2 separate regions of the Homo sapiens genome follow, and region 1 is reported to be linked to region 2. Evidence: microRNA targets listed by miRTarBase, many of them from high-throughput screens and not tested one by one. Region 2 holds a microRNA gene; the other region holds the end of a gene's coding sequence.
What was found. The annotated mature microRNA hsa-miR-4505 reads AGGCUGGGCUGGGACGGA and lies in region 2 at 2,959-2,976, opposite strand. An mRNA with a match to its seed (bases 2 to 7 or 8) in the 3' UTR can be bound and repressed. Matches are read on the target gene's strand: a 7mer-m8 pairs with bases 2 to 8, a 7mer-A1 pairs with bases 2 to 7 and ends in A, and an 8mer does both.

Region 1 (6,074 bases), not on the chromosome of region 2:
TGTATTTTTAGTAGAGGCAGGGTTTCATCATGTTGGCCAAGCTGGTCTCGAACTCCTGACCTCAAGCAATCCACCTGCCTCGGCCTCCCAAAGTCCTAGGTTTACAGGCGTGAGTCACCATGCCCAGCCGCTTTCTACTTCTTGATATATTTATTTCACTTCCTTCCAAGACACAAAACTCATTACTCACTGGCTGCTGCTTATCAGATGCCTGTGTAGGCTCCTCATCTTCTTTTTGCATTTTTAGAGTACCAGGGGACTCAGTTATTCAATTGCTCTTTATGTCTCTACACATTCCCTCAGTAATTTCATCTACTCTCAAAGTTTTAAGTATCACATGTTTTGACAATCCCAAAATGCATATTTCCAGCTTCACTCTCTCTCCCAAACTTCAGACATATCTCCACCCATTTACTCATCATCTCAAATTTGATATATCTCAGCTGAACTTCTGATTTTTCCTCCTAAATTTCTTTCTGCAGCCTCTCCCATCTTAAAGGCAACTCTGTATTTCCAGTTACTCAGAACATGAAGCTTAGAATCATAGTTTTCTCCTCTGTCTTTCACACCTACATCTAATCCATAAGCAAATCCTGGTAGCTGTACTTGCAGAATACATCTGGAATCCAACCACTTCCTACCACTTCCACTGCTGCCACCCTCGTGCGATGCACAAGCTGCAACAATTTCTCATCCTAGAATACTGAAATAGCCTCCAAACTCTCTCCTTGTTCCACCATTGCCCCTCTGTCTATTCTGAACAAAGCACGTGGAGTGACCCTTTTAAAATGATTTAAAGATCAAGTCATTTATCTGCTCCAAGCTCAGCCACCATATCACATTCCAAAATCAAATCCTTTACAAAGGTTGGCAAGGCCCTAGGTGATCTGTAGGGCTGCTTTCAACCCCTCTTATCTATGAATTCATCTCCTTCTACTCTGGTTTGCTCACTGGCCTCCAGTTATGCGCACTTCTTTGCCATTCCTACAACTTCCCACATATGCTTCCACCTTCAGTACAAACAATTCCCTTCAAGCATCTGCTCAAATTTACCTTCTCAATGAGGCCAACACTGACAATCCTGTCAAAAATTGCAACACATCCTCAACCTGCCTGCCCTCACAATTCTCCTCTCCTGTGCTACATTTTTTTTCCATACTTTATCAGTTTATAATTTATTCATATGGTTATTGCTTGTCTTTTTCCATAAGAATGTAATCACCCCCACCATCCTGCTCACCAGTTACGGTGTATCATAATGAGTAACAGTAAAAAGAACTGCACAATAAATTTAGGTAGCTCCACATTAGGGCAACCTCTGGAGAGAAGTTTGCGAGGGAGTTGAGTAACAAAGTTGAGATATGAGGAAGAATATGAATTTCAAAGGAAAAAGTAGGCCTGCATGGTAGGAAACACATGTACCACACATCTGTTACCTCCCATTGACTTTGGTTGTTAGATGTAAATGTAAACCAAATGTAAGTTCACATTACTTCATCTGTTCTGACACCATCATTAAAGAAATCCTGAAGTAAGCAGGTTAAGACAAGAACTGTCCTTATCTGTTGATGCAATATTCTATTAAAAAAATCTGATACTAGAATCTTAAATTCAATCTCTGAATTACATTGTCAGGGCTAATCATTGGGGCTTCTTTTCCTAGCTATCAGTTTTCCTTAAATGTCTGACATTCTTTGGACATCAGTATGTGTTTATGAAGGATTAGATCAAATTGCACAGATAGCTGAGAAAAGCAGTTTCTTCAGCAGTTATGTGTCTGCATTAGACCTCCTTTTTGAATAGAAGCGATGGTTCTCAGTAAATTGTCAGGCAGTGGCCAATCATAGCTCACTGCAGCCTTCAACTCCTCCCACCTCAGCTTCCAGAGTATCTGGGATTATGGGTGCATGTCATCACACCCGGCTAAATTGTCAGGGTTTTTTAACCAGCAGGTACCCACAGGTGAGTATGTGGTCTGCATGCAGAGAAATTGTTTCCCACCAAGCCAACATAAGGAGGCTTTACTCTGGGAGTGCTGCCATTTCTCACCAGCACCCCCTTGACCTTCAAGTGAAAATTCACTTCACCTTTACTCTGCCTTCACCTCACACCCTAATACCCTCAATGGGTAAGTCTTCCCCCAAATAACCCCATTCTTTCAAGACTTGTTTAGTCCCTTGCCTGAGGAAAAAGTTACTTTTGTTAACAACTGTTTACCTGGAGGGAGTAGCTAAGAGCAGAGCTTTCCAATGCAGTTCTTCAATAAATTAATATGAATGAATTCTGCACCCTCACCCAAATCCAATCCTTAAAGCTTCTCCAGGACATCCTGATTGTGGTTTTTCTGATTTATCTCCCAAGCCACACTCTTCTGCTTTATATATTACTGGAATGTCTCAAAACTTGATTTTTTTTAAAATAGGCTACAGATAATCCTCAGCCCAAAATTCAAGGTATAGCTAATTTTATTATTATCAAACAAAACTAGTAGATATAACTTCCAGGAAATAAGTTACATAAATATAACAGAATAAATTCATTTTCTTAAGTTTCAAATTAAAGATGATTAAGAAATACAGCTTTATGTAAAGTTTCTGCTTTTTCTCAACCACGCCTAAAGAGGAAAGAACTGGCAGCAGGAACACTTGCTCCTAGGAAACAAATACAACAAAATTATAATTAAAAAGATCTTCAAGCTATCAAAATTTGTGAGAGAAGGATGGTAAGAATGCAGTAGAAATTACCAAATGACAAACAAAATCCTATCAGTTTTCAGGTTGGTCAAAAGTAACTTCATGAATATAGCCTGTGATCAGCATATGTCCCATAGCTTATATGCCCTCTATACCTCCAGAGTTGCATAATAAACTTTTAACAATAAAACAACAACGAATATCAGGTTGTAAATATTTATATTTCTCTCACATACAATGTTGTATGAGACACTTGTTTTAATATGTATCCATAGGATTAATACTCATATGGAGTATAATGTGGAAAAGTGCAGAACTAAAGAAATAAGTCTATCCGAAAACAAAAGCACACATTTCTCAGGATTTAAAAATATTGCACATAGTAAGGTTGCACAGAAATTACTGGCTGGTTTTACAAACAGAATGAGGTATCAGTCAATCTCTAGATAAAGATGAGAGAGAGGATAAACTACACACACACAAACACATAAATCCATACTAAGACCTAAGAGTGCCAACAACTAAGAAAGAAATATGAAAAAGCTATGTAAGTAGCTATGATTTCAACACTACAAAATCATTTTTAGGCTGGAACCAAACACATAACAATCTCTTGGCAATATTTCGTTAAGTTTTCAACTTTTTTCCAGCCTAAATGACTATGGGCAATAAAACCATTTCCTTTACCCCAGTTCTACTGTAGAAAGGCACAGCGCTGTGGTAAATATCAAACCATTCCTTTCTCAACCTTTCAGTAGCAATTAACCAAGATACTGTTCTCCTTTACTGAATGACTCAATTATACAGTTTCATGTACACTCTGCAACGCAAGTCACAGATGTCATAGAACATGCAACTTTGAATTAGTAAAGGTTTCACTGCAAAAATCATTAGGTTCACACAATTTAAATCTACAATTAACTTTTAAAGTTTAATCAGGTAAACTCAATATTTTCTTGGTAATAATACTGGTGATATTAGTGAGCCCAAGGGCAGGTAGAGAAAAAGCACTAGGCAAAATTACGTGTTTTTTAAAGAAACTTTCCTAATCAGGGAAATAATTAGCATTTTGTCTACTCGTTGAATGTTGAATTTGTCAAAAAAAAAAAACCCTTAAATATATTTAATAGCTATATCAAATTGTTTAAAGTGAAATCATGCACTTGTCAAAATAGTTCACAGAAAATTGTTTAGCATCAAAGATAATGAGGAAGAGTCAACCAGTTGGATTTAGTGAGAATAGAATAAGAACTACTGTCCTGAACAGTCAGTGTATGTAGTAACCATATTTCCTCTTCGTTGAGTGACAGTCCTGCAGTGCTTGCTAGATCCATGAAATCTATTTTCAGTCTGTACTGTATGCTGATTGGTAGAGTCAAAACCACTAAAAGAAAACATTTTCTCCATATCTTCAAACATGTCATCAAATAATCCACCTCCAAAAGAAAATTCTTGGAAATGATGCCTTTGTCTACTGGAACCACCATCCTGGCGTGTCTGGAAATGATTTTCAAAACGCTTCTTGGATCCAGTGTTTTGGTTTTGACCAAAAAAGCCAAAGTCTTTAAATAAGTCATCAAAATTGAAGTTAAATGACTGCTCAAAAGAACTTCCACTACCTCTTTGTCCTTTACCACTAGTAAAAGCACTGTGTCCAAGTGTATCATACTCTTTTCGTCTATTAGCATCTGAGAGTGTTTCATATGCTGAAAGTGACAAAAATATTTTTAGTAACTGAAGGTAAAATATTCAAAATTACATATATTCAAATCTCTTCAAGCAAGTGAACTGAATACTATTATTTTAGGGAAGAATTTCGCATCAGAAATAAAAGCAAAACACTACAAATATAAGCATCAAGTTAATCAAAATTATAAAATAAAGCAGAAACTGTCTTATTAACTGCTGAGTTATCAGCAGTTGGCACAATGCCATCTGCAATACTCAATAAAGTTATTAAATGTTACCATTACTACAAATAAACATGTGGGCAACAATCAGAGTTCTTTAATCTTCATATTATTCGTGTGAAATCATTAATTGTATTAAAAAATTAAACCATCAACTATAACCAATTAATAGGAATTAAGATTTTGCACCTCCTTACTAAAGTAAACTGTTTAATTCTAACTCCCTACTCAGTTACCTCCATCCAACAATAATTACTGAATGCTCAGCAGGTGCAATTTGTTTTAGAGCTAGTCTGAAGTCAAAATTTGTTCCAATTTTTTCTTTGAAGACAAATATGGCTTTGAAAAGCAGATCAAGTGAATAAAGCACTTTAGAGTCTAGTTTAATTTTTAAGTCTTTAATGTTTAAAATGTAAAATATTCTGTTTCATAAGTTAGTTGATAAGAATTTTGGGTACCTAAAATTCTTTTTTGTCATAGAAGCAACAGTGATCTTATAAATAATATAGAATAGATTTTCAATATTTTTAGATACGTATACCAATAAAATTATCTATTATTCTTTCATATATTTATTCAGGAATCAAAGCATCTGTGATAAGAAAATAATCTCAGAGAATCACCCAATATTTATACATAAATCCCACTCCACCTCCCATCTCCACAAAACCTTCAAATACAAACACTTCTTAGCTATCATTCTCCTTACTAGTTAATACCCATGACACTTCAGAGATTGTCATTTATTTACCTTCTGCAATCTCTCTGAATTTTGCTTCAGCATCCGGGCTCTTATTTTTGTCAGGGTGGTACTTCATGGCCAACTTGTGAAAGGCCTTCTTGATTTGGCGCTCTGATGCCGATTTTGGCACACCTAAGATATCATAGTAGCTTTTTGAGGCCAGAATTAATTCTGTTATCATTAAAATGCAGATTGCAAAGATGAAAATTGACTGGGGAGTAGCCATTTCTAATATCCTAAAACAGAAAAGAAAAAAAAATGTTATGGATGGAGCTAATCTTAAAACGTTTTTCTTTTAAAAGAAATCCAACACAAGGTAAACCTAATGCAGTATCAAAATAGTAAGCATACAGTATCTATTACCTGTCCACATGTAATTTCACTTTTAGTTTTATAACTCTCAAACTGGCTTAACCTTATTGAGAACAAAAATAATTCTTGGCTTTGTCTGTCTACTAATACTCTGGCCATACACAGAGGAGATAGAAAATTATCAATAACTGACTTTTAACCAGTTTATATTGAAGATTCATCATATGCAAGCATTGTAAGAAAAAAAAAGAAAACCAAATAATATAAGATCCCAACTTTCCTTTCAAGACTTCATATCCTGAAAGTAATAATGTATTTAACTTCACAGAAAAAAAAAACATTAAAAAAAAAAGGTGGCGCACCAAGGTAAATAGCCCAGTATATCTAAATTAGTATTATTAATCTCGCTCCAAAAAT
Region 2 (6,074 bases):
ATACTGTCATCACAGATGCTAAATCGGGGAGCCCGGGCTTTTTTTTGTAGAAGGTGGTTTCCCTAGCTCCTCTATTCACTTACTGTAATCACAGAATCATGGATCTTGAACTGGAAGGGATCTCAAGAGGTCCTCTGGTCCAGTCCTGTGGCATAATTACCTGTATTTTGTAGATAAGATTGTTTTAAGTGTTCCTTATTTTGACATATCTATCATAACATGGTGCAAATAAGCCCTTCTCCTCTTGGGGAGGTGTGACTTCCAGGTGTACATGTACGCAGGTGCTCCAGCCAGCAAAGAGGTGGAAGAGGACAGGAAAGCCATGCCCCCTTAGAAGCAAGTGCAGGTTTGGCAGGATTTCTGGGCAGAAGATCCAAGTTTTGCCTGTGTCCTCCACACCCCACCCTGGCCCTGTAGGCCCAGTGAGTGTGTGAGAATCATATTCTGCTGCCCCTCCCTCCTCTTCTCCCTGAGAAAGTGAGGGATGCACCTGGTTCTCAGGTCTGGCCACAGTGTTTTGAAAAGTGGCTGCCAGGACACATGGTATTCTTCGGTGGTTTTTCTTTCAAAGGAAAATCTCCTTGTGACCCATCTCCTTGAAAAACAGCCACCGCCACCACCGCCGCCGCCACCACCACCACTGCACCACCACCAAAAAACTTGGAAGGAAGAATAGGACACACTCCCCTGAACTTTCCCCTGGCCCTAGAGCCCCATTGAATGTGGGGGCCAGAACCAACCTCTTGAGCTGCAAAAATGTTTTCCATCTTCCCACCAGTCAGGCAAGGAGGCATCAAGGCCTGGACCTGAGAATTGATCAGGGGGATATTTAGGGAAGACAGGGGAAAATGTGAGTATGGAGTGAAAAGCCGCTCAACTCTGGCCTGAGTTGCTAGATTTAAATCCAGGAGATTTTCCTCACCTAAGCGATGGAGATGGTGGGTCCTTTCTAGGGACTGAGGCCAGTTTCTCAATAACCTTTACACGCACCAGGACGCTTTTGAGCCAGAAAGTGAAACTCGGAGAGTCTGTTAATAAAATGCCATGGAGAGGATTGTGCATGATTTACCGTATCCAAAACCAGAGAGAGTTTCTTTGTGGAAGAAAGCGACTTGTGCCTTCCCCAGCATCACACACACACTTTCCTGGCAGGCTCAATGGGTTTCCAAACATTTCGTCACCGTCTCCTCCTGACCTTGGTGTGAAAGGAACTAGCAGCGTGGCCCGCCAGCAAAGCCATCGGGGGCGCCAGCCTGGGCGGGGGATGGGGACGGCGACCGACTCGTGAGTGGAGGTGAGGTCTGCTGGAAATCCCCAGCCCCGGCCGCCGCCTGAGGTTTAAGGACGCCTTCCCCGGCCTTATTTGGTCGCAGGAAGTGGGCGGCGCCGGGCCTGCTGGCTGAGGCCGCCCCGAGACAGTTGTGCTGATGAAGTGGTAGAGCTGGTTCCTGCTCGCCGCGGTGCCGCGCGCGCCGGCCGGCCGCTGGGCGCTCCGCGCTCCCAGCCTCGAGTTGTGCAATCCTTTGTAGCACGCCAGAGTCCTCCTCCTCCGCTGTTGCCTCTCGCCCTCTCTCTTTTTTTTTTTTTCAAGCTGTGAGCTCAACCGATGAGTCAGAGCCGTGCAATCCTGACACTGCATCGCAGGACTGGGGGTGACACGGAGGGAGGCAGAGCGCTCGCGAGGCGGACGGCACGGGTGCGGGGCGCGCCGAGGCTCCTGCATCGCAAGCGGGGGGTGACAGCCCGCGCGTCCCGCCCGGGCCCTGCCAGCAAACTTCTCAGCCTCGGGAGGCGCGGGCTGGCGGAAGCCCCGCGAGCGCCGCGGGGAGGCGACGGCGCCTGTTTGTTTTTAAAATCGGGAGTGCGTGCAGGCGGCTGGAGTCCCGGAGGCGACCGAAGGCGGCGACCCGCGGCGGAAGGGGGACAGCCGAGCCCGGAGCCCGGAGCCCGGGCAAGAGCTGGGTAAGTGGGGCTGCCTGGCCGGCGGCCGAGGCCTGCACGCGGCGGGGCCGGCGAGGGGACCCCAGGCGGCGCGCGAGCTGTGGCTGCTCGCACGGCGGGTTGCAGCTCTGCAGGCGCGGCCCGGAGAGGGGGCCGCGGGGGCCGCTGCGCTCGAACTTCTGCGGCCTGGGCGGCGGTGGAGCGGGCGCGTGTGGCCGTGCGGGGGCCGCCTGCAGCCCGCCGCCCCCTCCCCCGCGGTCCGCGCCCTCGGCCCGCAGCTGCGTGTGCAGCGCAGCCCCGCGGTGTTTGTGCAGCTACGCAGCTTGCGCGCGGCCCCCGCCCACCCGGGCGCGGCCCCGCCAGGAAAGCCCTCCCCACCCGGCGGCCCGCGGCGGCTCGGGAATCCGGCTGCTCCTCCTCCGCTGGAGAGAAACGTGGTGTCCGTGGGGACCGGCTGACGTGACGGAGCCCAGGCCCGGAAGGCGCGGCGAGGGGCTAGCCAGCTGAGGGAACTTGGCGCGGGAGCCCCTTCCCCTGCCAGCGTGCACGGGAAAGTGGGCCTGGACGCGGCGTCCACGCCAGGAGTTTGGGGGACAGAGGTGCAGGGGCGTTGGGGAACTGGGGCAAATGCAGTCAGCAGAGGCCTAGGCTGGAGCGCTTCGCGCGGGCGGGCGCACCTCAGACCTGTCATCCTCCCGCGCGCCCCCGCACGCCCGCGCCGCCGCAGCCCTCCCAGCCCGCGCGGTGCCTCGCGGGGAGCTGTGTTCCCTGGTGCCTGGCGGCAGCGCCGAAACCCGGGATTCGGCCGGGCCCTGCATATGGCCGGCTTGGTGGAGCTGGTCACGTCGCCTCCCAAGTCGCACATGCAGGACCATGTGTGTCAGGTTGCCCCCAAGGCCTCTGGGTAAAGGTCTAGGGGAGGAAGGGGAACTTCGTGTGCCCTGGGGCCTTCAGGCTTCAGCCCCAAGGCGGGCCGACATGGAGGAGGTACCTGCCACAGAAAGTGGAGGCCGGGTGTCCGTCCCAGCCCAGCCTCCAGCGAGAGCTGGTGAGAAGATGAAAGGGGAAGTTATATGCCCCATTTAAAACTTTGTTGGTCACAACTACGGTGGCTGCTTCCTGTTTCCACCATCCCACGTGGGACCTGTGTGCCAGCCTGTGGAGCCTCGCGCGGGGGGCGGTGGGATGGGGGAAGAGAGGCTGGCCACGGAGGCCCCGGTGGCCCGCGTATGCAGGGGATCCCTGTTGGCAGCTGCGGCTGGGGGAGGGAGGGGATGTCTGGCTTGCTCCAGCAGGGGGAGCCTGGCCAGGTGATCTGGGATCTTCTTGTTCCTGTAGCTTCAGGGTTGAGACTGAAGGCCTAGTGAAGGTGGACCGAGAAGCCAGTCCTCCCTAGGGGGCCTCAGCTGAGGGGAGAAACCACCTGTCTTGCTCTAGAGCCTCCCACCAAAGGTGTGGCACACGCCCCTTTTGGATCAGAGAAATGCACCCTTTCCTTGGGTGTTAAGTGGCTTCAGAACCCAGGGAAAAGGAGAAGCCTTCCCGGGTTGAGAATTCGTAGGTCTTCCTTTTCCAACTGCTCTGGACAGTGAATAATAGGAGCGTAAACATTCAATTACTGTGATAAACCATCTCGTTGCATGGCCCTGGTCCAGTCTCCACTCTAATTGGATTGGCCTCTGGCTGGTTACTCTGGTCCGTGTAGCTCCCGGGGGGACAAGGGGGTGAAGAACCTGGAGGATGCCCCCAGGTCATACAGCTTGCCAGCTTGCTCTGGAACAGCCTAGCCACTGCCAGTGTGGCCTCTCCAAGTGCCAGCAGAACCCCCACTCCCGTGACTCTGTCAGCTCCTCACCCCGCCCCAGGAAAGAGCGCCCTGGAGTGCCCATGGGGATGAGAATTTAATTTTTACATGTGGGATTTTAAAATAGCCCCAGTGTTTGACCCTGTGTGCTGCTGCTTTCAATAAGTGGAACACAAGAAAAGACAACATGCAGTTGTGGATTCAGCTGAGGGCCTCCTGTGTCTAGAGTCCCCAGAGAAAGGCTGCCCAGGGGTGCCAAGACCTCTGACAGAAGAGGGGAAGGGGAATGGGCCCAGTCCAGGAATCTTCAGGTTGAGAGCCCCTCTCTTGCATTTGGGTCTCCCAGAAGAAAACTTTGCTCATGCTGGGGTGGGGACAGCCACAAAGTGGCTGGGGGTTTCCAGCTTATCCTTCTAATCCTGTTTCAAATGCCACTTCTGAAGGCTGTAGCCATCTTCTGAACACTCATTTCCACCTTATGTAGTTATTTGTGTACATACTGCAGTGTGGTGGTCAAAAACAAAGACTCTGAGTTAGAGTTCCTATACAGTATCTCCTTCATAGAGTTGCTGTGAGGATTCTGTGAGTTAGTATACGTAAAATGCTTAAAGCACATTTCAGTATTTGGTAGCCTCTGCTTGAATGGGTCCCACAATGCTGCTTGGCATCTAGTAAGTGTTTAGTGTTTTTTTTTTTTTTTGGTTGTTAGAGATAGGGTCTTTCTCTGTCGCCCAGGCTGGAGTGCAGTAGTGCGATCTCAGGTCGCTGCAATCTCAGCCTCCTGGGCTCAAGCAATCTTCCCACCTCAGCCTCCCAAGTAGCTGGGACTACGGGTACACATCACCACACCTGGCTAATTTTTCTATTTTTGTAGATATGGGGTTTTGCCATGTTGCCCAGGCTGGTCTTGAACTCTTGGGCTCAAGAAATCCACCCACTTTGGCCTCCCAAAGTGCTGGGATTACAGTCTTGAACTACCTCACCTGGTCTTAGTGCATGTTAGTTGAACAAATTAGTGAAAGATCTCCATCAAAAAAAATGTGTACTTGTCATGTGTTGGGCCCAGTGAGTCCCTGCTCCTGGAACCTCCTCAGATTGCATCACTGGTTTCAAAAATGTCAGTCCACCGTGGGTGATTCTGGGGCTGGTGAACCCAGTTTCCTGGCACTGCCCTGTAGCTGGCCTTGTGGAGTGCATGTGTCGGTCATCCTGACCCTAAGGGGACCTCAGGGTGAAAGAGTTGTGGAGCCATCTCCCTAGGGATCTGCTAGCCTGGGCACTTCCTTTGGTCAGCCCAGATTGGCACCCTTCCTGTGTGTGTGCAGGCGTGCATGCATCAGTACAGAAGCAGCCTGGGGCTCCATTCTTCCCTGACTCACTGCAGGTGGCAGGAAGCAGAGCCAGTGGCCGCATTCTGTTGGAGGAATTGCTTCTTTCTGCACATGAGAACTCTTGACTCTGGGACTGAAAAATTGCATGCTGGGCCGGGGCTAGGGTGGAGTAGGCTGAAATCCCCAATTCTTACTAAGGGACCTGCATTTGCATTCGAAGCAACATTCAGGATACTGTGAGACTATGAGCTCATTTTATGAATCAGAAGCATTACAGCATAACTTTAATGTTGGAAACTGCAATTTGGAATCCAGATCACCCTCCCTCCACCTCAGCGCGCACGCGCGCGCGCACACACACACACACACACACACACACACTGACATGGGCTCTCGCAGTCACACACTTGGGAGCAATAATAGTTGGAGCATCAGTTCAGATTCTGGAGGCCTCCAGCAAAATTCATCCACACCGACTTCTGCTTCCACACTCAGAACGCCGTTCCTGGATGGTGTGTGGACAGTCACTTGGGCAGTGACTGAAGGAAGTCTGATGGGTGCGTGGGAATGAGGCCTGGGCAGACCTGAGTTCATACCCCAGCATCTCCTCTTGCTGTGTGGCTTTGGGCATTGCTTAACTTCTTGGGCCTCAGTTGCCTCACCTGTAAAATGTGGATGATACTAGTACTTCATAGGCTGTGAAGATTAGACAGGATTATGCATGCAGAGTGAATGACACATACTAGGTATTCAACAGATGGCAACTCTCATTTCACCAGTTCCCACTGGATCCAGTGTGTTTGCCTTTGACTCCTATCAAGGAAGAGAAAATGAAGGGTGTCCTGTTTATAGTAGGAAAGCAATCTACCAGGCCACTGAAGCTTGTATAAATGAAGTTTATTGTGCCCTGGGAACAACAGCTTGATCCACTCCACCCTAGACATGTGGCCCAGACCCAGTGTCTGTGTGCCTTTGAGAGGGACTGTGGCCCTGCAGCC

Region 1: miRTarBase lists DNAJB9 as a target of hsa-miR-4505. Seed matches in the 3' UTR shown: 7mer-A1 at 3,097-3,103.

The regions. Positions count from the first base shown.
Region 1 is chr7:108,571,224-108,577,297 of GRCh38, reverse strand. DNAJB9 (DnaJ heat shock protein family (Hsp40) member B9) reads right to left here. Exons shown (of 3, transcript NM_012328.3): 2 at 5,355-5,581; 3 at 2,448-4,399. The coding sequence starts at 5,571. The coding sequence ends at 3,945. Among named protein-coding and RNA genes, the nearest start is that of DNAJB9, 4.4 kb to the right of the region's middle.
Region 2 is chr14:73,755,651-73,761,724 of GRCh38, reverse strand. MIR4505 (microRNA 4505) reads right to left here and starts at 2,978; the gene lies at 2,906-2,978. It overlaps MIDEAS (mitotic deacetylase associated SANT domain protein), which reads left to right and starts at 1,422. Exons shown (of 13, transcript NM_001367710.1): 1 at 1,422-1,962. RefSeq lists enhancers at 1-99, 1,015-1,344, 3,405-3,454, 5,146-5,225 and silencers at 1,765-2,004, 2,135-2,284, 2,645-2,754, 5,065-5,359.